Linked DNA regions of Homo sapiens: regions 2, 3, 4 and 5 are each linked to region 1. The links come from fine-mapping of genetic effects on gene expression. A gene starts in region 1. Each other region holds a variant in brackets. All regions are shown on one strand. Distances are between the middles of the regions. Region 1 holds the start of ERGIC2 (ERGIC and golgi 2). Region 2 overlaps FAR2 (fatty acyl-CoA reductase 2). Region 3 overlaps FAR2 (fatty acyl-CoA reductase 2). Region 4 has its middle 230 kb from the start of FAR2. Region 5 overlaps FAR2 (fatty acyl-CoA reductase 2).

What was found. PIP is the estimated chance that this variant, and not a neighbour inherited with it, causes the effect. A credible set is the group of variants that fine-mapping cannot tell apart.
Region 2: its variant is the best candidate, but not a certain one, in a credible set for the expression of ERGIC2 in whole blood (INTERVAL, PIP 0.61).
Region 3: its variant is the best candidate, but not a certain one, in a credible set for the expression of ERGIC2 in whole blood (INTERVAL, PIP 0.62).
Region 4: its variant is the best candidate, but not a certain one, in a credible set for the expression of ERGIC2 in whole blood (INTERVAL, PIP 0.53).
Region 5: its variant is the best candidate, but not a certain one, in a credible set for the expression of ERGIC2 in whole blood (INTERVAL, PIP 0.51).

What each region holds. Positions count from the first base shown.
Region 1 is chr12:29,378,767-29,383,872 of GRCh38, reverse strand. ERGIC2 (ERGIC and golgi 2) reads left to right here and starts at 2,701. Exons shown (of 14, transcript NM_016570.3): 1 at 2,701-2,758. RefSeq lists an enhancer at 2,969-3,138.
Region 2 is chr12:29,170,076-29,175,181 of GRCh38, reverse strand. All of the region lies in intron 1 of FAR2 (fatty acyl-CoA reductase 2), which reads right to left. Among named protein-coding and RNA genes, the nearest start is that of FAR2, 23 kb to the right of the region's middle. The variant G/A (reference allele first, on the strand shown) is at 2,942.
Region 3 is chr12:29,307,778-29,312,883 of GRCh38, reverse strand. It overlaps FAR2 (fatty acyl-CoA reductase 2), which reads right to left. Exons shown (of 12, transcript NM_001271783.2): 5 at 5,049-5,106; 6 at 3,654-3,698; 7 at 1,738-1,856; 8 at 934-1,001. FAR2-AS1 (FAR2 antisense RNA 1) reads left to right here. Exons shown (of 7, transcript NR_103860.1): 2 at 2,981-3,113; 3 at 4,840-5,034. Among named protein-coding and RNA genes, the nearest start is that of FAR2-AS1, 7.5 kb to the left of the region's middle. The variant G/A (reference allele first, on the strand shown) is at 3,073.
Region 4 is chr12:28,914,307-28,919,412 of GRCh38, reverse strand. No RefSeq gene overlaps it. Among named protein-coding and RNA genes, the nearest start is that of FAR2, 230 kb to the left of the region's middle. The variant G/A (reference allele first, on the strand shown) is at 3,064.
Region 5 is chr12:29,286,667-29,291,772 of GRCh38, reverse strand. All of the region lies in intron 2 of FAR2 (fatty acyl-CoA reductase 2), which reads right to left. The region is part of intron 5 of FAR2-AS1 (FAR2 antisense RNA 1); the gene reads left to right. Among named protein-coding and RNA genes, the nearest start is that of FAR2-AS1, 29 kb to the left of the region's middle. The variant T/A (reference allele first, on the strand shown) is at 2,374.

The sequences.
Region 1 (5,106 bases):
AATACTATCCTGCAGCTTGATCTTTTCTGTAAGAGGGAAGGCAAATGGAGTGAAATACCTCATGTCCAAGCTTTATTTTCATTGAGGGAGAATACACAACTATGCAAAGCTTACAATTTATATCCCACAGGAGGATCTCTCAGCTTATCCCCATATCCTAGCCTCCCTATAGCTCCCCTTCCTATTAATGATAATCCTCCTCTAATCTCCCCTGGCCAGAAGGAAACAAGCAAGGAAATCTCCAAAGGACCACAAAAAACCCCGGGCTATTGGTTATGTCCCCTTCAAGCTATAGCGGGAGGGGTATTTGGCCCAACCCGGGTACATGTCCCCTTCTCCCTCTCTGATTTAAAGCAGATCAAGGCAGACCTGGGGAAGTTTTCAGATGATCCTGATAGGTACACAGATGTCCTACAGGGTCTAGGCAAACCTTTGACCTCACTTGGAGAGATGTCATGCTACTGTTAGATCAAACCCTGGCGTTTAATGAAAAGAATGCGGCTTTAGCTGCAGCCCAAGAGTTTGGAGATACCTGGTATCTTAGTCAAGTAAATGACAGAATGACAGCCGAAGAAAGGGACAAATTCCCGACTGGTCAGCAAGCCATCCCCAGTATGGATCCCCACTGGGACCTTGACTCAGATCATGGGGACTGAAGTCATAAACATCTGTTGACCTGTGTTCTAGAAGGACTAAGGAGAATTAGAAAAAAGCCCATGAATTATTCAATCGAACTAGAGAAAGAAAAAAATGGCACAAAAACACCTTTTGATCATCTTTACTAAATACAGGTTGTTATGGAACAATTATTAATCTCAGTCTAAAACCTATCTTATGCGGGTAATACATAATGGACTTTTTAAAGCAAATTGTTTTTCAGACATAACGCCACTGATAACACAAGATTAAGTATCTATCTCTTTTTAAAGATGATCCTGATAGGTACATAGATGTCCTACAGGGTCTAGGGCAAACCTTTGACCTCGCTTGCAGAGATGTCGTGCTACTGTTAGATCAAACCCTGGCCTTTAATGAAAAGAATGCGGCTTTAGCTGCAGCCCGAGAGTTTCAATCTTCAGGGGAAATTAAGTTCCCTCTTCACTGGGTAGATTAGAAAATGGTGAGTTGTTTTCTAAATAAGAAGGATCAAATTAGTCAGTTTTGCTACACTGGGAAATCCAACTCTCATGGGATAGTTGTTACCCTGAAAGTAGGTTATCCAGGAGATGAGGGATCAGATGTAACTAAGTGAACAACAGCCAGCCTCCATCCAAGCAAGAGCCCATATTCACAAAGAAGGAAGAGTTGCTGATGCCTTTACGGCAAAGATTAAAAAAAGGCATTTTAGATGTATATTAATTTACTTAATCCTCGTAACAACTCTGAGATATTATCATGCCCATTTTACAGATGAGCAAATGGAGACACAAAGAGATGAAATAATGTGGTCAAGGTTACATGCTAGTAAGTTGCTGATCTGGAATTCTAACCCAGGAAGTCCTGTCTCCAGTGTCTATGATTTCACCCACTACACTATACTTCTTAAGCATGTCAAGAAAGTGAGAACTTTAAATTGATTTAATTAGACTAACTCTGAAAGTCTGAAAATAAAATTGATTCATTGGAAACTTTTCATCAGTCCTTATTTTGGGGGATATTCAATTTAGTGAAATTTAGTATTTCAGTAAAGGTTAATTCACTACATAAAACAATGTGATTTTTTTCCTTTGAGGCACAGTTTAGTATTGTGATCAAGATTTCCCTGACTCTCCCAGCGGTCTGAATTTGGGTAAATCACTTCACTACCCCTTGACTCAAATTCCGTATTTATAAAACAGGTAAATACTGGTATTATCTTCTAAGAGTGTTGTGAGGATACGCAGATTTTTTAAAAAAGCAGTTAAAGCCTTTAAACAGTAATTATAAGCAGTTGTCATAATTATGCCGTTGTTAGACTTCTAGGTCAATGAATCAGAAAATTTAAATCTCAATGTTTGATTATAAAATCTGGTAACAGATGGGTGAAAAGGAACCTGGAATGGGTTTACTCTCCAGGAGTTCACATTTAACTTTTCTTTCCGAAGTTCCGTCTATTAACTCCTGTTCTATGAAGTGGTAGAAAAAGATGAGGTATTAATTTTCTTTCTTAACAAATATTTGAAGGCATAGTTGGTGTTGGCGAAGGGAGATGAGGAAGACATATGTGCTTTCTTATGATATTAAAACCTGGAAGACAATAAAAACGCTGATCAAATAATAAAAAGCGTTACCTATGGCGGAAAAGGAAGCTCAAATGTTCTTGTCAGGGGAAAACGACACAAAAACTGAAAGAGGGAAACAAAACAATTGCACAGGTGATATGCATTAGGGTTGTTAGGGATAATTTCTGCGCCCAAGGCTCTTATTAGTAATGAAATACGGTGTGAGGAGCTGAGATTCGTTCTGCAGTCTCAGTGTTAGTCGGAAAGTAACCCCTCCCTTCCCATAGAAACAGAACCGGACTGGCGGCGCGATTACACCTAAAACAAGTTGCAACCTCATTTCCCTGTAGGCACGCCTCTTTTATCTTAACCACGCCTCTTCATTCCCTAAGCACGTCGTAAGCAAAGGGAATATCGCGAGATCTGTACATTGTCTCTTTTCTGACGTTTTCAGCTGTGATAGTCGCTTTTGTTCTCGCGATATTTCCGGGTACGCGGGAGCCCCGGCGACCCGGGCTTCTGTGAAACATGGCGGTAGGCTGGGACCATAACACAAGGTAAAATACTGAAACACCGCTGGGTGCTGTTCCCTCGGTTGTTCCAGGGCTGTTTAGGGCGTAAATGCAATTGAGGGAACTGGGAGCCTGTCATGGGCTTGGCTTCCTGTCTTCATTGATCTCTAGAGAGCCGGTCGGACGGAGAAGCCGCTCCACCTCCCACGGGGGCGTTACTGGCAGGACCCTAGGCAACGATGCTACTGGGAGCTTCCCTTTGCCAGGTCCGGGTGCTTGTGTGCTATCCTGCAACTCGAAGGAGTTCAGGTGCTTCCTCGATCGCACCTGATTCTGACCCTTTGCTTGTCACAGTGCCCGGTTCCCAGGTGGTTTCTCCAGTCCGCAGGCGAGTAGGATCCCAATCGGTCGAGTCCCAGTCCTCCCGGATGTCAGACTCCCTACCCCCATTCAGACAAATGCCACATTCGTGGCAGCACGTTGCCCTCTGTCTCTTTAAGAGTCTTGGCCTTGCCCGGAAGGAGTTTCGCACAGTGCTTCGGAAAATGAGAAGGGGGCGGGGGAGGGCGAGATGCTGAGAGACAGGTTCGACTGTCACTACTTTTCCTCGGCGCAGGAAACCTTCCGAAGGCAACGTGTCAACTCGTGGTGGAGAATAGCCTTGTTTATCTGTAGTATATAGAGTTGACAGGTCATTGTTTGAGAAAACACGTTTAAATAACTTTTATATTTTAGTGCCCCCGAGACTTAAAGACAAAGTGGCATAATAGCTGTTAAAATGTTGCCAGACTGGTTTTCAGAAGCAATGAAAGTTACAGTTAAAAACAGGATTTATTCATTTGAAGTTGTAATTCAGTATTTCAGTTAATTGCCTAGCCTGATACATTGGACTCCAGTATACAGCAATTATAAAGAATGAGCCTGGCTTGTTCACTGAAAAAAGACATGGTTATTTACCTAATTTGTTTGTTGATATCTTTAAGTTGTTGTAATTATGCCAGTTCTAGTGGAAAACATGAGGAAAAAAATTCTGATTTTTTGGGAGGGTGGGGGTTGGCGGTGCAGGGATGGATAGAGAGAGGAGGATTTTTTTTTTTTTTTTAAATGATGGTGAACTTTAGTATACAGTTGCGTGTTATAATGGCTTCCTGGTACAAATCATAAAAATATATCAAGTTTGAAAGATCTCTCAAAGGAAATCAGGCCTAGTCTGGAACAACGAGAGTTAGGGAAACAACAACAACCACCCACACATTTTCTTTCTTTGGGGATTGATGATTTAAGTGAAAGAAATGGCTATTTTTTTTTTCTTTACCAGAAGTTACTTTTAGGCAGTCAGTGCCTGCTAAAAATCCTATTTAATAGTTTCCCAATATTTATTGTAATTCTGCCTCTTAATGTCATAGTGGTCAAATTATTTAACCTCTCTGTGCCTTAGTTCCTTCATCGGCCAAATGAAATAATGATACTTAACTCATAGGAAGGTTGTGAGGATTGAATGTGTTGAAACATACAAAGCATTTAGAACAATACCTGGCACACAGTAAACACTCAATGCATGTTAGCTCTTGTTATTTTTTATTTTCATTTTCTAACATCTGTAGTTACAAATGTTGCCTTGTTACTTAGTCAAAATGTAGACTGAAGAAGATATTGTTTAAAATAATATCTTTCTGAACTCCAGATTGATTAAACACTCTGATTGGTGTGGTTAATGTGTCCTTAAACTCCCATTATCCAGTTGCTTGTTTTCTTAAATTATTATCCTCTTTTAATGACTAAAGCATAAGTTCTTCCTTTCTATTGCTCTATATAGTCACGTTGTAGTGTGGCTCAGATCTACCCTCTGAGTGCCTTATTAACCCCCATACTCTTTGCTTTTGAGAACATTCATTCTATTGTAAATATATTTCATGTGTCCCTGACCTTTTCCTTAATACTTTTTAACTTTAATTTTCTATACTTTTATTGAGAGCTACTATAGTCTAGTTGTTCTTTGAGGAGGATTATACTTGTCCTTGCTTCACATTGCTACTAGGCACTTTTAAGGTTATTCTGTTATCACTCTATAGTCTCTCTTAACTTTTAGTCTTATCAGTTTATGCCATCCTAACTTCAGGAGATTGTCAACTAACCTCACATACTCTCCCACTTTCCTCAAAGACTTTAACAACTAAATCTCAAATATCCTACAAATCTTTGCTTTTTTTCAGAGAATTAGAAATAGATATTACATGCCTCATTTTTATCTTAACACTGTGAGGTAGCCATTATGTCCTGCTGCCCATCTTTTAAAATAAAATTATGGAGAGAGGATTCTAAGAAGTTGAGTATCTTTCCACACTTGTCACACAACTAGTAAGTGCCTAGGTAATCAGGGTTTTCTGATTATA
Region 2 (5,106 bases), 210 kb after region 1:
TGGGGAGTACCATCGGATCCCTTTCACTTGCTATTCTGTCCTACTTTTCCTTAGAATTTGGGGGCTAAATACTGGGCACCTGTCAGCCAGTTGAAAGTGACTAGTGCAGCTGCCAGACTAAAGACATGAGTGTCAGGCTTTCTGGGAAAGGGCTCTCTAACAACCCCCAACTCTTTGGAGTTGGAAGCGTTGGTTTGCCTGGAACCAGGTTCCACATCTCCTGTACTTCTGGGCTGAGCCGAGGGTCACCAGAGAGGAAAGCCATTCAGCTTCGGGGTCCCAACAACAAGTTGGTTGACCTTGTGGCCATGAGTGGAACTCTCAAAGTCACATCGCCCAAGTGAGACTTGCCCTTCTATCCTATCTATCCTGACCCTTGCCTCCTGGGTCCTAACGCCTGTCAGACAAACTTCTTCTCGCCTCTCTTCTCCGAGGCTAGTTCCACTTCTAAAAGCCACTCCTGGCCGGGTGCGTTGGCTCATGCCTGTAATCCCAGCACTTTGAGAGGCCAAGGTGGGTGGATCATGAGGTCAGGAGATCGAGACCATCCTGGCTAACACAGTGAAACCTTGTCTCTACTAAAAATACAAAAAATTAGCCGGGCGTGGTGGTGGGCCCCTGTAGTGCCAGCTACTTGGGAGGCTGAGACAGGAGAATGGCATGAACTGGGGAGGCCGAGATTGTGCCACTGCACTCTAGCCTGGGTGACACAGCAAGACTCCATCTCACAAAAAAAAAAAAAAAAAAAAAAAAAAAAAGAATAAAAACCACTCCCTGTCTCTGGTGCTTTTCCAGTTTCTCCTATAAGAATAATTTCTAGTATAAACTCCAGGACTCCATTCCCTTCTTTAGGCACCCGGGCTCATCAATCAGAAAGACATATTTTTTGCCCAAAGCCCCATCGTGGTGGGGGAGGGGCAGACTATCTTCTCTGAAATGTTAGGATCCCTCCTCAGACTAGCAGGCCTAACAAAAGCTATTCCTGAAGCTAGGATATGGGGAGCTTCAGAAATGATATCCTTCCTATTCAGGTGAGGACAAAAGGCATCACTCCTCCAACCCTGGAGATCACTTCCCTCCCTCGGGGTATGGCCCTCCACTTCATTTTTGGGGCATAACATCTTTACAGGACAGGGGTAAAGTCCCAATACTAACAGGAGAATGCTTAGGACTCCAACAGGTTTTCGAGAATGTGTCAGTAAGGGCCACTAAATCTGACCTTCCTCAGTCCTCTTTGTGGTCTAAGAGGACAGGCAAGGGTGCAGGTTTTTGAGAATGTGTTAGTAAGGGCCACTAAATCCAACCTTCCTCAGTCCTCCTTGTGGTCTAGGAGGAAAACTAGTGTTTCTGCTGCTGCGTAGGTGAGTGCAACTATTCTGATCAGCAGGGTCTAGGGACTGTCGCGGGTTCTTGGGTAGGGGGGGTGTGGGGAAACAAACAAACCAAAACTGCGGACGGTTTTGTCTTTCAGGTGGGAAACACTCAGGTATCAACCGGCTTACCCTTGAAATGCATCCTAAGCTATTGGGACCAATTTGACCCGCAAACCCTGAAAAAGAGGCAACACATTTTTTTCTGCACTATGGCCTGGCCCCAGTATTCTCTCTCTGATGGAGAAAAATGGTCACCTGAGGGAAGTATAAATTACAATACTATCCTGCAGCTTGATCTTTTCTGTAAGAGGGAAGGTAAATGGAGTGAAATACCTTATGTCCAAGCTTTCCTTTCATTGAAGGAGAATCCACAACTATGCAAAGCTTGCAATTTACATCCCACTAGACGACCTCTCAGCTTATCCCCATATCCTAGCCTCCCTATTGCTCCCCTTCCTATTAATGATAAGCCTCCTCTAATCTCCCCTGGCCAGAAGGAAACAAGCAAGGAAATCTCCAAAGGACCACAAAAACCCCCGGGCTATCGGTTATGTTCCCTTCAAGCTGTAGGGGAAGGGGAATTTGGCCCAACCCGGGTACACGTCCCCTTCTCCCTCTCTGATATAAAGCAGATCAAAGCAGACCCATGGAAGTTTTCAGATGATCCTGATAGGTACACAGATGTCCTACAGGATCTAGGGCAAACCTTTGACCTCACTTGGAGAGAAGTCATGCTACTGTTAGATCAAAACCTGGCCTTTAGTTAAAAGAATGCAGCTTTAGCTGCAGCCTGAGAGTTTGGAGATACCTGGTATCTTAGTCAAGTAAATGATAGAATGACAGCCAAAGAAAGGGACAAATTCCCTACCAGTCAGCAAGCCATCCCCAGTATGGAGCCCCACTGGGACCTCAACTCAGATCATGGGGACTGGAGTCAAAAACATCTGTTGACCTGTGTTCTAGAAGGACTAAGAATTAGGAAAAAGTCCGTGAATTATTAAATGATGTCCACCGTAACTCAGGGAAAGGAAGAAAATCCTTCTGCCTTCCTCGAGCGGCTACGGGAGGCCTTAAGAAAATATACTCCCCTGTCACCTGACTCACTCAAGGGTCAATTGGTCCTAAAAGATAAGTTTATTACCCAATCAGCTGCATATATCAGGAGAAAGCTCCAAAAGTGAGCCCTGGGTCCTGAACAAAATCTGGAGGCATTATTAAACCTGGCAACCTCAGCGTTCTATAATAGGGACCAGGGGAACAGGCCGAAAAGGAAAAGCGAGATCAGAGGAAGGCTGCAGCCTTAGTCATGGCCCTCAGACAAACAAACCTCAGTGGTTCAGAGAGGACAGAAAATGGAGCAGGCCAATCACCGGGTAGGGCTTGTTATCAGTGTGGTTTGCAAGGACACTTTATTTTTTTTTTAAACTTTTAATTAAAAAGTAAACTTTAATGTCGAAAATGCAAACTTGGGGAAGACAGAAAAGATCACACACAAGGCTGTCACTTAACACTTGGAAGGTTGCACAGTGGCTGGGCAGAGGTGCTCCTCACTTCCCAGATGGGGCAGC[G/A]ACCAGGCAGAGACACTTCTCACTTCCCAGACGGTGGGGCGGCCGGGCAGAGGCACTCCTCCCTTCTCAGACAGTTGGTGGCCGGGCAGAGGGCATTCCTCACATCCCAGATGGTTGGTGGCCAGGCAGAGGCGCTCCTCACTTCCCAGACAGTTGGTGGCTGGGCAGAGGCGCTCCTCACTTCCCAGACAGTTGGTGGCCGGGCAGAGGTGCTCCTCACTTCCCAGATGAGGCAGCGGCCAGACAGAGGCGCTCCTCACTTCCCAGACTGGGCGGCAGCCAGGCAGAGGTGCTCCTTACTTCCCAGATGGTTGGCGGCCGGGCAGAGGCACTCCTCACTTACCAGTCAGTTGGGCGGCAGGGCAGAGACGCTCCTCACTTCCCAGATGGGGTGGCGGCCAGGCAGAGACACTCTTCACTTACTAGACAGGGCAGCGGCCGGGCAGAGGTGCTCCTCAGTTCCCAGACAGTGGGCAGCTGGGCAGAGGCACTTCTCACTTCCTGGATGGTGGGCAGTCAGTCCGAGGTGCTCCTCACATGCCAGATGGGGCAGCAGCTGGGCAGAGGCCCTCATCACTTCCCACATGGTTGGCGGCCAGGCAGAGGTGCTCCTCACTTCACAGGCGGTTGGCAGGCCGGCAAAGGCACTCCTCACTTGCCAGATGGGGCGGCAGCTGGGCAGAGGCACTCCTCACATCCCAGACAGTGGGCAGCTGGGCAGAGGCGCTCCACACTTCCCAGATGGTTGGGCAGCCGGGCAGAGGCGCTCCTCACATCCCAGATGGGGTGGCAGCTGGGCAGAGGTGCTCCTCACTTCCCAGATGGGGCAGCAGCCGGGCAGAGGCACTCCTCATGCAAGGACACTTTAAAAAAGATTGTCCTATGAGAAACAAGCTGCCCCCTCGCCCATGTCCACTATGCCGAGGCAATCACTGGACAGCACACTGCCCCAGAGGACAAAGGTTCTCTGGGCCAGAAGCCCCCAACCAGATGATCCAACAACAGGACTGAGGGTGCCTGGGGCAAGCACCAGCTCATTGATGGCCAGGAAATTGACTTCCTCCTGGACACTGGCATGGCTTTCTCATTGTTAATCTCCTGTCCTGGACAGCTGTCCTCAAGGTCTGTTACCATCTGAGGAATCCTGGAACAGCCTGTAATCAGGTATTTCTTCCACCTCCTCAGTTGTCACTGGGAGACTTCGCTACAGATAGTAAGTATGCTTATCTAATCCCACATGCCCATACTGCAATATGGAAAGAAAGGGAGTTCCTAACCTCTGGGGGAACCCCCATTAAATACCACAAGGAAATCATGGAGTTGTTGCACGCAGTGCAAAAACCCAAGGAGGTGGCAGTCTTACACTGTCGAAGCCATCGAAAAGGGGAAGGTGAGGGGAGAACAGCAGCATAAGCGGCTAGCAGAGGCAGGGAAAGACCAGCAGAAAGGAAAGAGAGAAAGAGAAAGTCAGAGAGAGAGAGAGAGAGAGAGGAAGAGACAGAGACAAAGAGGAGTCAGAGAGACAGAGAAAGAGACAGAAAGTCAAAGAGAGAGAGGAAGAGACAGAGAAAAAGAGGGAGTCAGAGAGAGAGAGAAAGAGAGAGACAGAAAGTCAAAGAGAGAAAGGAAGAAACAGACAAAGAGGGAGTCAGAAAGAGAGAGACAAAGAAGAAAAAGAAAAAGAAAGAGAGATGAAAATACTAAAGAAAACACAGTGTATCCTATTCCTTTAAAAGCCAGGGTAAATTTAAAACCTATAATTGATAATTGAAGGTCTTCTCCGTGGTACTCCAGTACCACCTTGTTGTCAGTGTAAACAAGGGCATAGCCCGAAAGCACTGAGGCCACTGACAACCCATAGCCTTCCTAACAAAAATCCTTAACCCAGCAGGTTTCCTAACAGGGGATCTAAATCTTAATTACCATACAAAGGTCTGACCAGACCAAGGAGGAACTCCCTTCAGGACAGGAGATAGATGTTTCCTCCCAGGCGATTAAGGGAAAAAGACACAATGGGTATTCAGTAAATGATAAGGAAACTCTTGCAGAAGCAGGGTTAGGAAAATTGCCTAACAACTGGTCTGCTCAAACGTGCCAGCTGTTTGCACTCAGCCAAACCTTAAAGTACTTACAGAATCAGGAAGGAGCCATCTATACCAATTCTA
Region 3 (5,106 bases), 71 kb after region 1:
TGAGCCACAGTGTCTAGCTGCCCTGCAATAGAACTCTCAGTGTGGCACCATGGCTTACCACTGGAATGTGTAGAGGTAGTGTTACCTATGTAACAGGGAAAGAAAGTGTGCATTAGTAGGTAGTAAGAAATCCTACAGAATAGCCAAACTCCCTACTTTAACTTTCTACCATCATTAGATGTTTAAGTTGTACTCAACTCTATTTCCATGGTTTTATACATTGAACAGATCCAATCCTTTACATTCAGACAGATCAATCATTTGTATAGTACAGGGTTTCTCTGTTTCACCAAGCATCAAGAATCATCTAGATGCTTATTAAACATATAGTTTCCTCAGCACCACCCAAGACCTTGGTCCCAGGGTTCAAGGAATCTGGGTGTTGTTTTTATTTCTCCCATAGTGCTTCCTATTCACTTTTACAAATCGCTAGTGGAGTGGTTATTGCACACCTGAGAGGCAAGCTGCATAAATTAATGATCAGTATGATGGACTCAATAACAAAGGATTAATATCACCTAACTTTTCTATCTCATTGGTCATTGATGATGTCGCATTCTCAGTGACATATCAAGAAGGGAAGGGGTGTGTGTAGGAGCCATTGCTCCAACAGGGAGGAGTATTTCAGTATTTTATCACTGACATTCTTTATAACTGCCAACTTTTGCTTTGTTTCATCATTTTTAAAATCGCTATAGCCAATGGACCCCTTACTGCTTACAATCTTGTACATGTTGCCACTGACTCCTTTCTTTGGTAACCACAGTACATTCTAGTTAACTATCACACATTTACAATTTCTCATTATTTTGTCTCTTTACTTACTTTTTGTCTTTCTCCCCATATAAGCTCTAAGCTCCATGACACACTTTGTCAACTTTTTCTCTGTGCCAGACACTAGTAATTATAGAGTTACATAGCTAAAGTACTTACCCATTTTGTGCCAATTGCAGGGATTCATGTTACCAGATGTAATGTGGTAGACTAATGTTGACTTAGGTCTGGAAAATGAAATAAAAATTAGATAAGTACAACAAAATAGAAAACTAATGAGAGAAAAATAAGGAAAAATAATATTTAGACAGAGTGGTTTCAGTAATTCATCTGATTAAGGCAACCTATGAAAGGCTTCCATCGTTCATTCTTTCTCTGGGTTAATAAGCAAAATGGAAGAAGACTAGGAAAAGCATGTGTGTGTGTGTGTGTGTGTGTGTGTGAAAGAGATGTTAAATAGGAGTGACATATTATGGAGTACATATATGTGAGTTCACATAAGAAAAATTTAATTTACTAACAGACCCAAATATATGAACAACCTATTTTTTTTCCTTTGTACCAGGAAGCTTCCCCACACATCGTGACTGAACTTTTGGCATTTACCAGAGTTCAATTAAAAAAAAATTCTGTCATTTCATCAGCTTCTATCTCCTTTGCCCTAAAAGAGAAAGCTGAATTTTAGACTACTGAATAGAAAGAAAAGCCTTTTGGTTATCAAGAATTTTATGGTTAAGTGATTTAAAGGTTTTATTACTTTATGAGTAGCCAAGTACTAAACTGTATTTATAAAACAACTCAATGCATATATGATGGCATATTAGGAACTCTATAAAATATTGAAATACGCACTTTCACACATTTGGGGTCTTGTACAATGAAATGCCTATATTTGGAAAATGGGCCTAATATATTCACTCTGCCCCTCATGAAGTCTTTGAAAGCCCACTTGAGCATCCACACCTGTGAACTGCAGTATACCATCCTACAGCTAGCATGAGATTGACGACTGTATCAACTGGAATTACGTCTGCCACAGCCATTGGAGTAGCTTTTATGGCCCGAAGAAACCCTTTCCCAGTCTGCATAGGAAAAAGAACATAAAATATTAAACCAGGTCTTAAATAATAGCTGGGGCTAAAGTATGTATCATCAAACTGGTTATACTAGTGCAATAAGTGAAAACAGCTAACATTGATCCACTGCTTACCAGGTTCTTATGCTAAGTCTGACTTCCTCAGCCTATCCTACCTTCCCAGCCAAGTGCATGCGTCTCCAGCATTTTCATGAACTACTAGTGTTCCTCACGTTCCTTTAGGGAATAAAATTCCTCAAATTTGTGAGAGGTTAATAAACTCAATTAACAAACACCAAGAATAAACTTTTACATCTTAAAAATTAATTCATAAGACATGTTAAGAATTAAGGTTATACAAATTTCCCATTAATTTTCCCATTAATATTTGTTTACCATTTCCTTGATGATTTTGTTTTCTGCTAGGGTTTATTAACTTACAAGCAATAGTAGGCACTAAAAGTTTAAGAAATACTTATTTGAAAAACATTAATTGGTGAAATTCCACCATTAATAAAAGAAAACTTTTTTTTTGGCTTGGAAAAATTGCCTTATTATTTACTTTTTATTCAGTATCTTAGTTCACCTCACAGATCACTGATGTTATATAGATGCAAGAATTAGGAATTATTCATGTTAATAATTGGTTGAGTTTATGAAATTGATTCTTTGTGCTTTGCATGTTTCCAACATTGATTTGCAACGATTAGCACTTTCTTATGTTACTCAGTTCTGTTTTCTTATAACTAGCTCCCCTTCTTTTGGACATAAGAAACCAATTTAGAACATTTTAGAAAATGTAAATAAATATGTAGCTTTGCATGTAATGAAAGCCGTTTTGGGATCACGTTAAAATAATGATGTTCTAAGTCACTAAACGTTCACCCCAACTGAACTTTTGTAGAAGAAAGAGTTGAAGGCAGGTGGGAAGCAGAAAGAAAGGGGCTGCTAGAAAAATCAGAAATCGGAAGGAAGATCTTTGTCACTGTTATAATTCACTGTCTCATATCTGTATTGCAATTCATGTTGAACCTAGTTCTGGGAGGAACAGAGTCAGAGTCTGAATCGCAGTCTAAATCCCTAATAAAATTTAAACTCATTTAGATCACTGATTTCCTATTCATTGTACAGAAGAATGAAGTGGGGTTTAGACCCTAAATGCTTCAGTGTGAGCTGTGAAGCCCCACAGCTTGGCTGGATCAATCTGGACTTCGGGCAGATGC[G/A]CACTAAGGGCTGCTTACCTAGAGGAGCCACGTTTCTCCTGGTAAGATATTATTGAAAAGATGTTGCCTATATTCATGGATTTTTGTATTTGAAAAATTTGCTCCAATTGGTAGTTCTCTTTCTTGTATTCATTAAAAATTATTGATGTATATCTCTTTTCTACACACGCACATAAACTCTTACATGTGTTTTATAATCAAGAATTTAATAATCTTTGAAGATATTTTTACTGCATCCTCAATTCACTGCACTAATTCATGAGATTATAAACTGCAAAAAGGAGGAAATACCCCCATCTTGTGGTAACTAAAGAAAAGTCCTTGATGCTCAAAGACTTCAAAAATAAAACTCCTAAATAGTAACTGATAGCACATTACCTCTGTTTTTCTGATAAAAAATTCTCAAAGAATAATTTCATCCTGCCTGTATATTACAATCAGAACAATTAAAATAATATGCCTCAGTTATTAGTAAAGTAACATTTATGTTTTTGGATCAATGAAGCTAAGCCAGCACTAAGAATTTTGTTACTATTTCTCTACTACATTTCAGGGAGTTATTTCTTCATCATTATACATACCGCAATAATGATTCCATTAGGTCCATTTATATTATCAACCCAACCCTAAAAGAAAGAAGATTTCTATTGGTTACACATTTCAGAAAATTGTTTTATCTTTGGAACATCTGCAGTCTAATCTTAATAAATTTCAAACAAGAGCACTGAGATCCCAGCCAATAGAACTATCTAATTCAGTATTATTAAGATCTCAAAAGATAATGGCAAAGCATTGGCCATTTTCTGTACTTTATTTGACTGTGCAAAAATTAGAATTTTGCCAGGATTGTTTTTCTTAGCAGGAATCATGAATGGTTTTGTGGTGTTTTATGACCTCTTATGGACTAAATTGGACCTTGTCCTTATATCATGATCTGCTAAGCAATTCACCAACCATACTTCTCCACCTTAGTCCTGATTTCAGCCTCCTTAGGAGAACATTGAAAACATGATTTGTGTTAATGGCCCATTTCTTAACATTTTTTACCAGCTATAGAGTCCATGCCAGATATATATACATATATATATATATGTGTGTGTGTGTGTGTGTGTGTGTGTGTGTCTGTGTGTCTGTGTGTATATTGACTTACTTAAAGATGTTACAGAGATTATATTTAAGAGCAGCTAGAGGGAAATGTGTTTTTAAGTTTGTTTCTTAAGACCTAAGCCATTCAGCTGACCTTATTATGTCTCTTTACGTTACAGTATAAAAGTCAAATGTGTGAGTATAACAGGAGAGGAGAGAGAAGAGAGGAGAAGATGAAGGGATTAATATTTGTTGAGCCTTTTAGTAGGGACCACTCCTCATACATTGTCTCATCAAATCAACTCTCCATAGTATCTGTCCTGTTTTATGGAAGGGACAACTCAAAAATGTTGCATTACCAGTAAGTAGTGGAGCTGGAATTTATCTACCCCAAAGCTTCACAGACTTGCTTTCAAGAAGATGGTATAATTCAAAGTACTTTCAAAAGGTCATGACAGTATACTGAGGTTTAAAAAAAATTAGTATTCCTAAACTGAGATCCTTCTGTGAGCTTTGAAACTCTTGTTTACCCTGGCAGTTGTAATACTACCAATTTGGCCATCAAGGACATTCTGGTATGCTTAAACTATAGTAGGAAAGCCAAGATATGAAACCATCACCCATGTGAATTTTGAGACTAGAGTAGTTAGAAGCTAATTTAAGCTCTCCGTCCAACTCTAGGGCAGTCAAGATAACTGCCAGAGGAGCCACATGCTGGGTAAATCCTGAACCCAAAGTGGAATTTTGCCCTAGTATAATGGGTTCATATTCGATTGGCTGCACTTAGCTATAAATCCTGAGGAGGAGAAGAAGAAAGACATCAGAAAGTAATTGGACTAGAAGAACCTTAGTTTGGAAGCAAAACACAGAATCCAGGTAAGTGGGCTTACTGGGAAAGGCTCCTGCCAAGTTGCTCCCACAATGGAGGGCCTTATGATGGCAATGTTC
Region 4 (5,106 bases), 460 kb after region 1:
TTTCTCTTGCCTAATTTCTCTTGCTAGAACTTCCAGTACTACCTTGAATAGGAATTTTGAGAGTGGGATTATTGTCCAGGTCCAGTTCTCAAGGGGAATGCTTTCAGCTTTTGCCCATTCAGTATAATGTTGGTTGTGGTTTGTCACAGATGGCTCTAATTATTTTGGGGTATTTTCTTTGTATGCTGAATTTGGTGAGGATTTTTATTATTAAGGTATGTTGGCTTTTATCTAAAGCTTTTCTGTATCTATTGAGATGATGATGTAGTTTTTGTTTTTGATTCTGTTTATTTGGTGAGTCACATATTGATTTGCATATATTGAACCAAATTTGCATCCCAGGAATAAAACCTACTTGATTGTGATGAATTAACTTTTTGATCTGCTGCTGGATATAGTTTGCTAGTATTTTGTTGAAGGATTTTTTTATGTCTGTGTTCATCAGAGATATTGGCCTGTAATTTTCTTTTTTGTATCTTTGCCAGATTTTGGTATCAGAGTGATGCTGGCTTCATACAATGAGTTAGGGAGGGGTCCTTTCTCCTCAATTTTTTAGGTTTCAGTAGGATTGGTACCAGCTCCTCTTTGCAGATATGGTAGAATTGGGCTATGAATCCATCTGATCTAGGGCTTTTTTGGTTGGTGTTTTTATTTATTTATTTATTTATTTATTTATTTATTGAGATGGAACCTCACTTTGTCACCCAGAATGGAGTAGAGTGGCATCATCTTGGCTCACTGCAACCTCCACCTCCTGGGTTCAAGTGATTCTCCTGCCTCAGCCTCCTGAGTAGTTGGGATTACAGGAATGCACCACCATGGCTGGCTAATTTTTAGTATTTTTAGTAGAGATAGAGTTTCACCTTATTGACCAGGTTAGTCTCGAACTCCTGACCTCGTGATCCACCCATCTCAGCCTTCTGAAGTGCTGGGATTACAGGCATGAGCCACAACAAGCAGCCGTTGGTATGTTTTTTATGACTGATTCAATTTTGGAGCTAATTAATGATTTATTCATGATTTCAATTTCTTCCTTTCTCAATCTTGAAAGATTCTGTGTTTCCAGGAAATTATTCATTTCCTCTAGATTTTCTAGTTTGTATGCATAGAGGTATTCATAATAGTCTCTGGGGATATTTTGTATTTCTGTGAGGTCAGTTGTAACATCGCCCTTGTCATTTCTGATTGTGCTTATTTGGATCTTCTCTCTTTATTTGTTCATCTAGTTAGCGATATATTAACCTATTTTATCCTTTAAAAGAACCAACTTTAGGTTCCGTTGATCATTTGTATGAATTTTGGGGTTCGAATTTTTTTCATTTCTGCTCTAATTTTAGGTATTTCTTCTCTTCTATTATGTTTGGGGTTAGTTTTTCTTGTTCTAGTTCCCCTAGGTGTTATATTAGATTGTTAATTTGATATCTTTCTAACTTTTGATTTAGGTAATTAGTACTATAAGCTTTCCTCTTAACACTGTTTTTTTTTTCTGCATCCCAGAGATGTTAGTATATTGTATCTCCGTTTTCATTTATTTCGAACATTTTTCAAATTTCTGCCTTAATTTCGTTGTTTACCCAAAAGTCATCCAGGAGCAAGTTGTTTAATTTCCATGTAATTGTGTGGTTTTTACAGATCATCTTGGTATTGGTCTTTGTTATTATTCTACTGTGGTCTGAGTGTATGCTTGGTATAATTTCGATTTTTTTGAACGTATTGAGACTTGCTTTATGGCTGAGCATGTGGTCAATCTTACAGATTGTTCCATTCGTAGATGAAAATAATGTATATTCTATGGTTGTTGGGTGGATTACTCTGTAGATATTTAGTTTAATTTTTCTGCTACAACAATCTATCTTATGCTGTCAGATGGGTATTGAAGTCCCCCACCAATATTGTGTGGCTGTCTAAACCTTTTCATAGGTCTAGATACTTGTTTTATTAATCTGAGTGCTCCATTGTTGGGTGCATATACATGTGGGATATTTATGTCTTCTTGTTGAATTGAACACTTTATCATTATGTAATTTCCCTTCTTTACCCGTTTTTACTGTTGTTGGTTTAAAGTATTTTTTTCCCCGATATAAGAATAGCAACCTCTGCTCGTTTTTGTTTTTTGTTTTCACATGTTACAACACCCATAGTGTCAAAGTAAAGTCTCCCCTTACTTTGAGGATATGGGTGTTGTAACGTGTGAGATAGGTCTCTTGAAGACAGCAGAGGATTGGGTCTCATTTATTCATTCAATTTGCCACTCCGTGTCTTTTAATTGGGGTGTTTAGACCATTTACCCTCAAGGTTAATATTGATATGTAAGGTTTTGCTCCTGACATGATGTTGTTAGCTGGTTGCTTTGTAATCCTGAATGTGTAGTTGCTTTATAGGGTCTATGAGTTGTGTATTCAAGTATGTTTTTGTGGTAGTAGGTATTGTTCGTTTTCATGTTAGAACTTTCTTAAGAATCTCTCATAAGGCTGATCTCATGGTAATAAATTCTCTTATTGTTTGCTTGTATGGAAAAGATTTATTACTCTTTAACTTATGAAGCTTAGTTTGGGATAATATGAAAATTCTTTATTGGAATTTCTTTTATTTAAAGACGCTGAAAGTAGGCCCCCAGTCTCTTCTGTCTTGTAGTGTTTCTGCTAAGACTGCTATTAGCCTGATGGGGTTCCCTTTGCCCTTTATAAGTAATATGACTGTTTTCTTTAGTTGCCTTTAAGGTTTTTTTCTTTCATGTTGACCTTGGAAAGTCTGAGGACTTTGTTTCTTGGGGCAGTCATCTTGTATAGTACAAGGATTCTCTGAATTCCTTCAATTTTCTTGTCAACCTCTCTAGTGATATTGGGGCAACTTTTGTGGACTATATTCTCAAGTATGTTTTCCAATTTGCTTACTCTCTCTTCTTCTTTCTTAGGAATGCCAATGGGCACAGGTTCGGTCTCTTTATATAATCCCACATTTCTCTAAAGTTTTGCTCATTAAAAACTTTGTTTTCAATACTTTTGTCTGACTGAGTGACTGGAAGGACCAATCTTCGAGCTCTGAAATTCTTTCTGCAGCTTG[G/A]TCTAGTCTGCTGCTATGACTTCTAACTATTTTGAAATTCCTGTAGTAAATTTTTTCATTCCAGAAGTTCAGTTTGGGTTTTCCTAAAATGACTATTCCATCTTACAGCTATTGGATTGTTTTACTGGCTTCATTGAATTCATTGATTTCAACTTTTTCTTGAATCTTGTTGAACTTTCTTGTCATCTAGATTCTGAATTCTATGTCTGTCATTTCAGACATTTCAATCTGCTTAAGATCCATTTTTTTTTTGGAAACTAGTGTGATCCTTGGGAGGTAAGGAAACTCTGTCTTTTTGAATTGCTGCAGTTCTTCTGCTAATTCCTTTTCATCTCAGAGGGCTGGTGTTTCTTTATCTTTTTGAAGTTGCTGCCATTTGGATGAAGCTTTTTGTTTTCATTTTATTTTATCCCTTGAGCGTTTGACTATGGTGTATACTGTAGATAGTCACTTGGCTTTGTTTCTGGGTGCTTTGAGAGAACCAAGTCTCTGTAGTTTCCTTAATTGTGGTTAGTTTCCTGCACTGGTTTTCACATGTGATAAGTGCTGAATGAATTTATTTCTGTTTGGTGGTGTCATTCAGGCTGCAATCCAGTAGATGGTGATTAAGAGTAAGAGCCAACAGATAAGCTTTTACTCAGTTGCACACCTCTTTTGTATTTTATTTTGTTTGCAACAATACCATGTGGAGGGGAGATGGGGAGGCAAGAGACAACTCCCTCACCAATCTGTTCCCAGGTGGGCTTTGTGGGACATCCCTGTAATCACTGGTGTTGCACCCACATTTTCTTAGCCCCAAGAGGTGCCCTTGAAGACTGCACTCTCCTTTCTCTTATGGCTGGCCCAAGCCAATGTTCAGGTCACCAGGAGACCCACAATACCCAAGGACCTGCTGGTCCTCTGTGCTTGGCAGAGTTGAAGCATGTTGCGGGGTGTGTCTGCAGATAGTCTGGTGATAGAGTGGGTCAAGAGTAGAGGATTCCCTGGGCAGAGTGGTGGCGCTGCAGGTGTGCAGCTAGTGTGGCAACTGTGGCCCAGCTTTTTTTCTCTCAGTAGATGGCTGTGGGAACTGCCCAGCTTATACTCCCACACTAAGTCTGCCTCCAGTGTCTGCCCTGGGAGCAGGTCTAACCAGCTAGTTTTGTCCCAAACCTTCTGCTCCCAGATCACTGGGCTGTTTCTCGTGTTGTGAGCCATGAGGCTCCCTCAGGCAGAAGCTGCAGCTGGCAACAGGCTACACTCTTTCTGGACCAGACTTGCAGAGGTATGGATGCCTAGCTTCTGCACTGGTATATGAACCCATGCCTCACTCTTCCTCATGTTCTAAGATGGGGGTTGCTGTCCTGATCTATCTCAAACCACAGATCTCAGCTCAATTCCCTTAGGCAGTGTGCTCAGCTCCTATGAGGTTGGGACCAGGTCTGCATCTTTGTTCTTTGGCGCCTTGGGGTTAAGCATTGCCTATGCTGGAGGAGTCAAACTGCTCCCAGGCTGTTGGTAAATTAATTAGGCAGGTCAGTGGAGGCTGTGCTGTGTGCACCCTCTTGCAGGAGCAGCCAGGCAAGGGCCTTGGGAGGAGCTGACAAACGAGGGGGAATGCAGATCAGATTTTCCCCCATCCTGTGGGAAAGGCATCCCTGCCAGGAAGTTAGCAGAGGCTAGAGTCACTCAGAGCAAGATGGAGAGCCTCGGGGGATGGGTTCCTATGATTGTGTTTCACTGTACCTGCCTCACATGTTAAATCTTCTGGGCTCTGTGGGAGTTGAAGTTCTGCCTCTGCCTACTCTCTGGGCAGTTCCCCTTGCCAATTCAAATGTGTATGGTGGTTGTAGGATTTGTGATATTCAGGATTCCAGAGATCCATATCAGGAGCGTTGTGCCCTGGAGTTTCTTCACTCACCCTTAGGACTTGTTTAAGACTGAGAGCCAGTCCTCGCACTCAGTCACTCTGTATAGGCTTCCCAGCTTCCTCCCTCTTTAACTTTGGTGTCTGTGTTGTCTCTTACTGCCTTTCAGTGTTTTTCTCAAAAGATCTGTTCAAAG
Region 5 (5,106 bases), 92 kb after region 1:
AATAGTGCCATGTCCTGAATAGAGTGACAGAGATGGCAGCCAACTGGAATCCAACAGGTCAGTGGTTTTGGTCTTTTCATAACGCTGTCCACAAAGTGAACTGCATTGGAATCACTAGTAGCATAATTAAAATGTATATTCCTGGGTCCTATCCCATACCCACTAAATAAGAAATTACTAGGGCACACCCAGGAATCTGTATTTCACACCAAGTCCCCCAATTGATTTTAAGGCATGCAAATGATGAGAATTTCTCCATTTAGAGTGCAAACACGGACCATTGCAGATGAATAACTGCATACAACTCATTTCCCTTTATAACTGCCCAGAGCAATCTTCGCATCAGTAGCTTTCAAACTGTAGGCATGAAAAATCAAAGAACCTGGTTAAAAATTATTTCTTTATTCCACCCTCAGAGACCCTGGCTCAGTAGTTTTGTGTGTAACCTAGGAAATTGTATTTCTTAACCGCCTCTGCAGGTGGATCTGATGGTCCAGGTACCATAATTGGGAAACACTGACTCTGAAAAATTCATGTCTGTTCTTAAATTCAGGGCTTATATTTCCCCCTCTAGTTTGTAAACTCCTTGATTCTTTTTTTCTTTTGTAGGGAAACTCTTTCTATTTTTCTTTAATTTCTGTGGGTACATAGTAGGTATATATATTTATGGGGTACATGAGATGTTTTTATACAGGTATGCTATATGAAATAAGCACATCATGGAGAAGGGGTATCTATCCCTTCAAGCATTTATCCTTTGAGTTACAAGCAATCCAATTATACTCTTTAAATTATTTTAAAATGTACCATTATTATTGACTATAGTCACCCTATTGTGCTATCAAATAGTAGGTCTTATTAATTCTTCTATTGTTTGCCACCCTTTACCATTCCCATCCACCCCCTCCCACTTGCCTTCCCAGCCTCTGGTAACCATCCTTCTACTCTTTATGTCCATGAGTTCAATTGTTTTGATTTTTGTACCTGACAAATAAGTGAAAACATGCAATGTTTGTCTTTCTGTGCCTGGTTCATTTCACTTAGCATAATGACCTCCATTTCCATCCATGTTGTTGCAAATGACTGAATCCCATTCTTTTTGATGGCTGAGTAGTACTCCATTGTGTATATGTACCACATTTTCTTTATCCATTCATCTATTGATGGACACTTAGGTGGCTTCCAAATCTTAGCTAGTGTGAGCAGTACTGCAACAAATATGGGAGTGCAGATACCTCTTTGAGATACTGATTTCCTTTTTGTTGGGTATATACCTTGCAGTGGGACTGCTGGATCATATGGTATTTCTTTCTTTTTTTTTTTTTCTCAGACAGAGTCTCACTCTGTCACCCAGGCTGGAGTGCAGTGGCACAATCTTGGCTCACTACAACCTTCACCTTCTGAGTTCAAGTGATTCTCTTGCCTCAGCCTCCTGAGTAGCTGGGATTACAAGTATGCACCACCATGTCTGGCCAATTTTTGTATTTTTAGTAGAGATGGGGTTTCGCTACGTTGGCCAGGCTGATCTTGAACTCCCGACCTCCAGTGATCCACCCGTCTCAGCCTCCCAAAGTGCTGGGATTACAGGCATGAGCCACCACACCTGGCCCATATGGTATTTCTATTGTTTTTTGAGGAACATGCAAACTGTTCTCCGTAGTGGTTGTACTAATTTACATTCCTACCAACAGCATATGAGGGTTCCTTTTGCTCCACATCATTGACAACATTTTTTATTGCCTATCTTTTGGATATAAGCCATTTTAACTGGGGTGAAATAATATCTCATTGTAGTTTTGATTTGCATGTCTAATGATCAGTGATGTTGAGCACCTTTTTATATGCCTGTTTGTCTTTTGTATGTCTTCTTTTGAGAAATGGTTATTCAAATATTTTGCTCATTTTTTGATCGGATTATTATACTTTTTACTGTATAGTTGTTTGAGCTCCTTATGTATTCTGGTTATTAATCCTTTATCAGATAGGTTGTTTGCAAATATTTTCCCCCATTCTGTGGCTTGTCTCTTCACTTTGTTGATTGTATCCTTTGCTGTGTAGAAGCTTTTTAACTTGATGTGATCCCATTTGTCCATTCTTGCTTTGGTTGCCTGTGCTTGTGGGGTATTGCTCAATAAATTTTTGCCCAGACCAACGTCCTGGAGATTTTCCCAAATGTTTTCTTGTAGTAGTTTCATAGTTTGAAGTCTTAGATCTAAGTCTTTAATCCATTTTGATTTGATTTTTGTATATGGAGAGAGATAGAGGTCTAGTTTCATTCTGCTGTATCTGGATATCGTTTTCCCAACACCATTTATTGAAGAGGCTGTCTTTTCTGCAGTGTATATTCTTGGCACCTTTGTCAAAAGAGTTCAC[T/A]GTAGGTGTGTGGATTTTTTTCTGAGTTCTCTATTCTGTTCTATTGGTCTGTGTGTCTGTTTTTATGCTGGTACCATGCTATTTTGGTTACCATAGCTTTGTAGTATAATTTGAAGTCAAGTAATGTGATTCCTCCAGTTTTATTCTTTTTTGCTCAGGTTAGCTTTGGCTATTCTCAGTCTTTTGCGGTTCCAAATAAATTTTAGGATTGTTTTTTTCTATTTCTATGAATAATGTTACTGATATTTTGATAAGGATTGCACTGAATCTGTACACTGCTTTGGATGGTAGTATGGACATTTTAACAATATTGATTCTTCTAATCCATGAACATGGAATACTTTTCTAGTTTTTGGTGTCCTCTTCAATTTCATTCATCAGTGTTTTATAGTTTTCATTATAGAGATCTTTCACTTCTCTGGTCAAGTTAATTCCTAGGTATTTAATTTTATGTGTGGCTATTTTAAAGGCTTTTTAAAAAATTTCTTTGTAAACTCCTTGATTCTTATTCATCTCTTTATGCCTGACAGTATGCCATTCATTGAAAAGACTCAAATTTTGCTTATTGAATTAAAATTAATTCCTGTAAGATCAGTAATAGAACTATTACTACAATAGAATGGAAGCCTGATTCCTGAAGTTTGTATGACTGTGATGAGAGATAGCAGATAGCGACTGCTAAACGAGGACACAAGTGTTTCCTGAGTCCTCTATATTAACTGCCAGTGGGAGCTTGAAGTAATGTAATTTCTCCAGTCTTTATAGCAGACCTTCTATTTTTATAATAATGACAAGACTGAAGGGACAAGATGAAATGGTGCAAATGGAACCTGGATAAGCACCAGCTCTTCTAAAAAAAATTTTCTTTTTGGTGTGTTTGTTGCTAATGTGAGAGATTAAAGTAAGAAAAATAGATGAAATCAAAATGAGTAAAGAAAAAACAGAATTTCAGAAATTTCATTGAAAGCCCACCAATAAAGAACAATATAATTATTTTAAATTCTAAGAGCTTATCCTGTTTCTTCTCATTGCATAAACTCATATTCTCTACTTGATGGCACAAGACTGAGAGGTAAATAGTTGGAAAGCTGCTCACCATCATCAAAACTCAAGCAGAGGGATTGCTGTTGATCCATTTTAGGAAACCTTGTTCTTTACAAGAGTAGGACACATTTCTGTGGTCACTGAAAGATACAGCTGAAAGGTGATCTAAGCATTTCAGATTGGAAACTTTGGGAGTGTTCCATTGACTTGCCATTACACAGGCAAGTATTTCTCTCCTTAATTTGTTTTTAAACATAAGATACTCTTCTAATTATATGAATAGTTACTTGTAGCCCAGAGGCAACAGAGAAACTGCAAACTCTTAAGTAAGAAAATTCAGCAGAAAGAGAAAACCAGAAAAAAAAATTTGTCTGGTTTAAATAAACTCCTTGGGTATGACTTCTGTAGTCAGACATCAAGACTGCATTTTTATTAGAAGTAGGAATTGGGGTGGGGGCATTACATTTATATAATGCTTTTGAAACAATCCAGAGGCCTTTAACATGGTCTCTTACAATGAACTAGTTAGCCACATGACCTCATTTTGTAAGTATCCACAGGAGATTTGCCCTCTACTTCCTGGGGCTCATTGAAGGTAATCTAATCTTTTCTAATCATGAGAATCTTTGATCTTTAATCATTTTACTACGTCTTTCTCTTCAAAAAGTCTTTCTCTTCAAAAATAACTACATTATGTAGTCCCAATAACCCACCAAAATTTGCTTAATTTTTTTTGGAAAATAAATGAGTAAGGTTGCTTAAACTAAGGGGCAATCTCTGTGGAATATTTGGTGTCCCAAGGTGAAAGAGACACTGTAATTTTTTTTAGAGAATTTTTAGAGTGCTGAGTAAAAACAAATCAATGAATTCTGCAAATTAGCTTTAAGTTGAAAACAAACACAAATAAGTTCGTTAATTTAAGCAAAAACCATTATACCCAATGTACAGATTAACAAAAATTCACAAAATGTTAAAATTGTTGCTAGTTCACTAGTAACTCTCATAAGATGTAAAGGATTAATCTAGACGTTTTTAGTGCTTTAGCGAAGACCGTTTCTATAACTCCATAAGGCAGCATGGTGTAGTAGTATGGCTGTCAACTTTCGGCATATAGCAGGGTTGCCCAGGAAGTTGCTCAAACAAACAAACCTATGTCCTGACCCTGAAGATTCTCATTCAACAGTTATTAGTCCAAGCTTGGGCATCTATCTTTTCTTTGAACATGGTCTCTAGTAATTCTGATATACCCTGAAGTTGAGAACCATTGGTGTATTGGAAAGAGCTCAGGCCCTTAGGAGTCATGAAATATTATATTTGAATTCTGATTCTGCCATTGATTTGCTATGTGACTGGGGGAAGTTACTTACCTCTCTGGGTCATTGTGTTTTTGCATATTTATCTAAAATGCCAACCACCTGACTATCGTATTCTGTGACCTCAGAGAATTAAGCATATATTATGCTGTTCTTAAAGACAATTTTGCATTTAAAATCGTATTCTGTGACCTCAGAGAATTAAGCATATATTTTGCTGTTCTTAAAGACAATTTTGCACTTAAAATCGTATTCTGTGACCTCAGAGATTTAAGCATATATTATGCTATTCTTAAAGACAATTTTGTATTTAACAAAATTTTAGTTCACTTTACATAATATTCTACAATAAATGCTAAAGGCAACACAGTGCTTG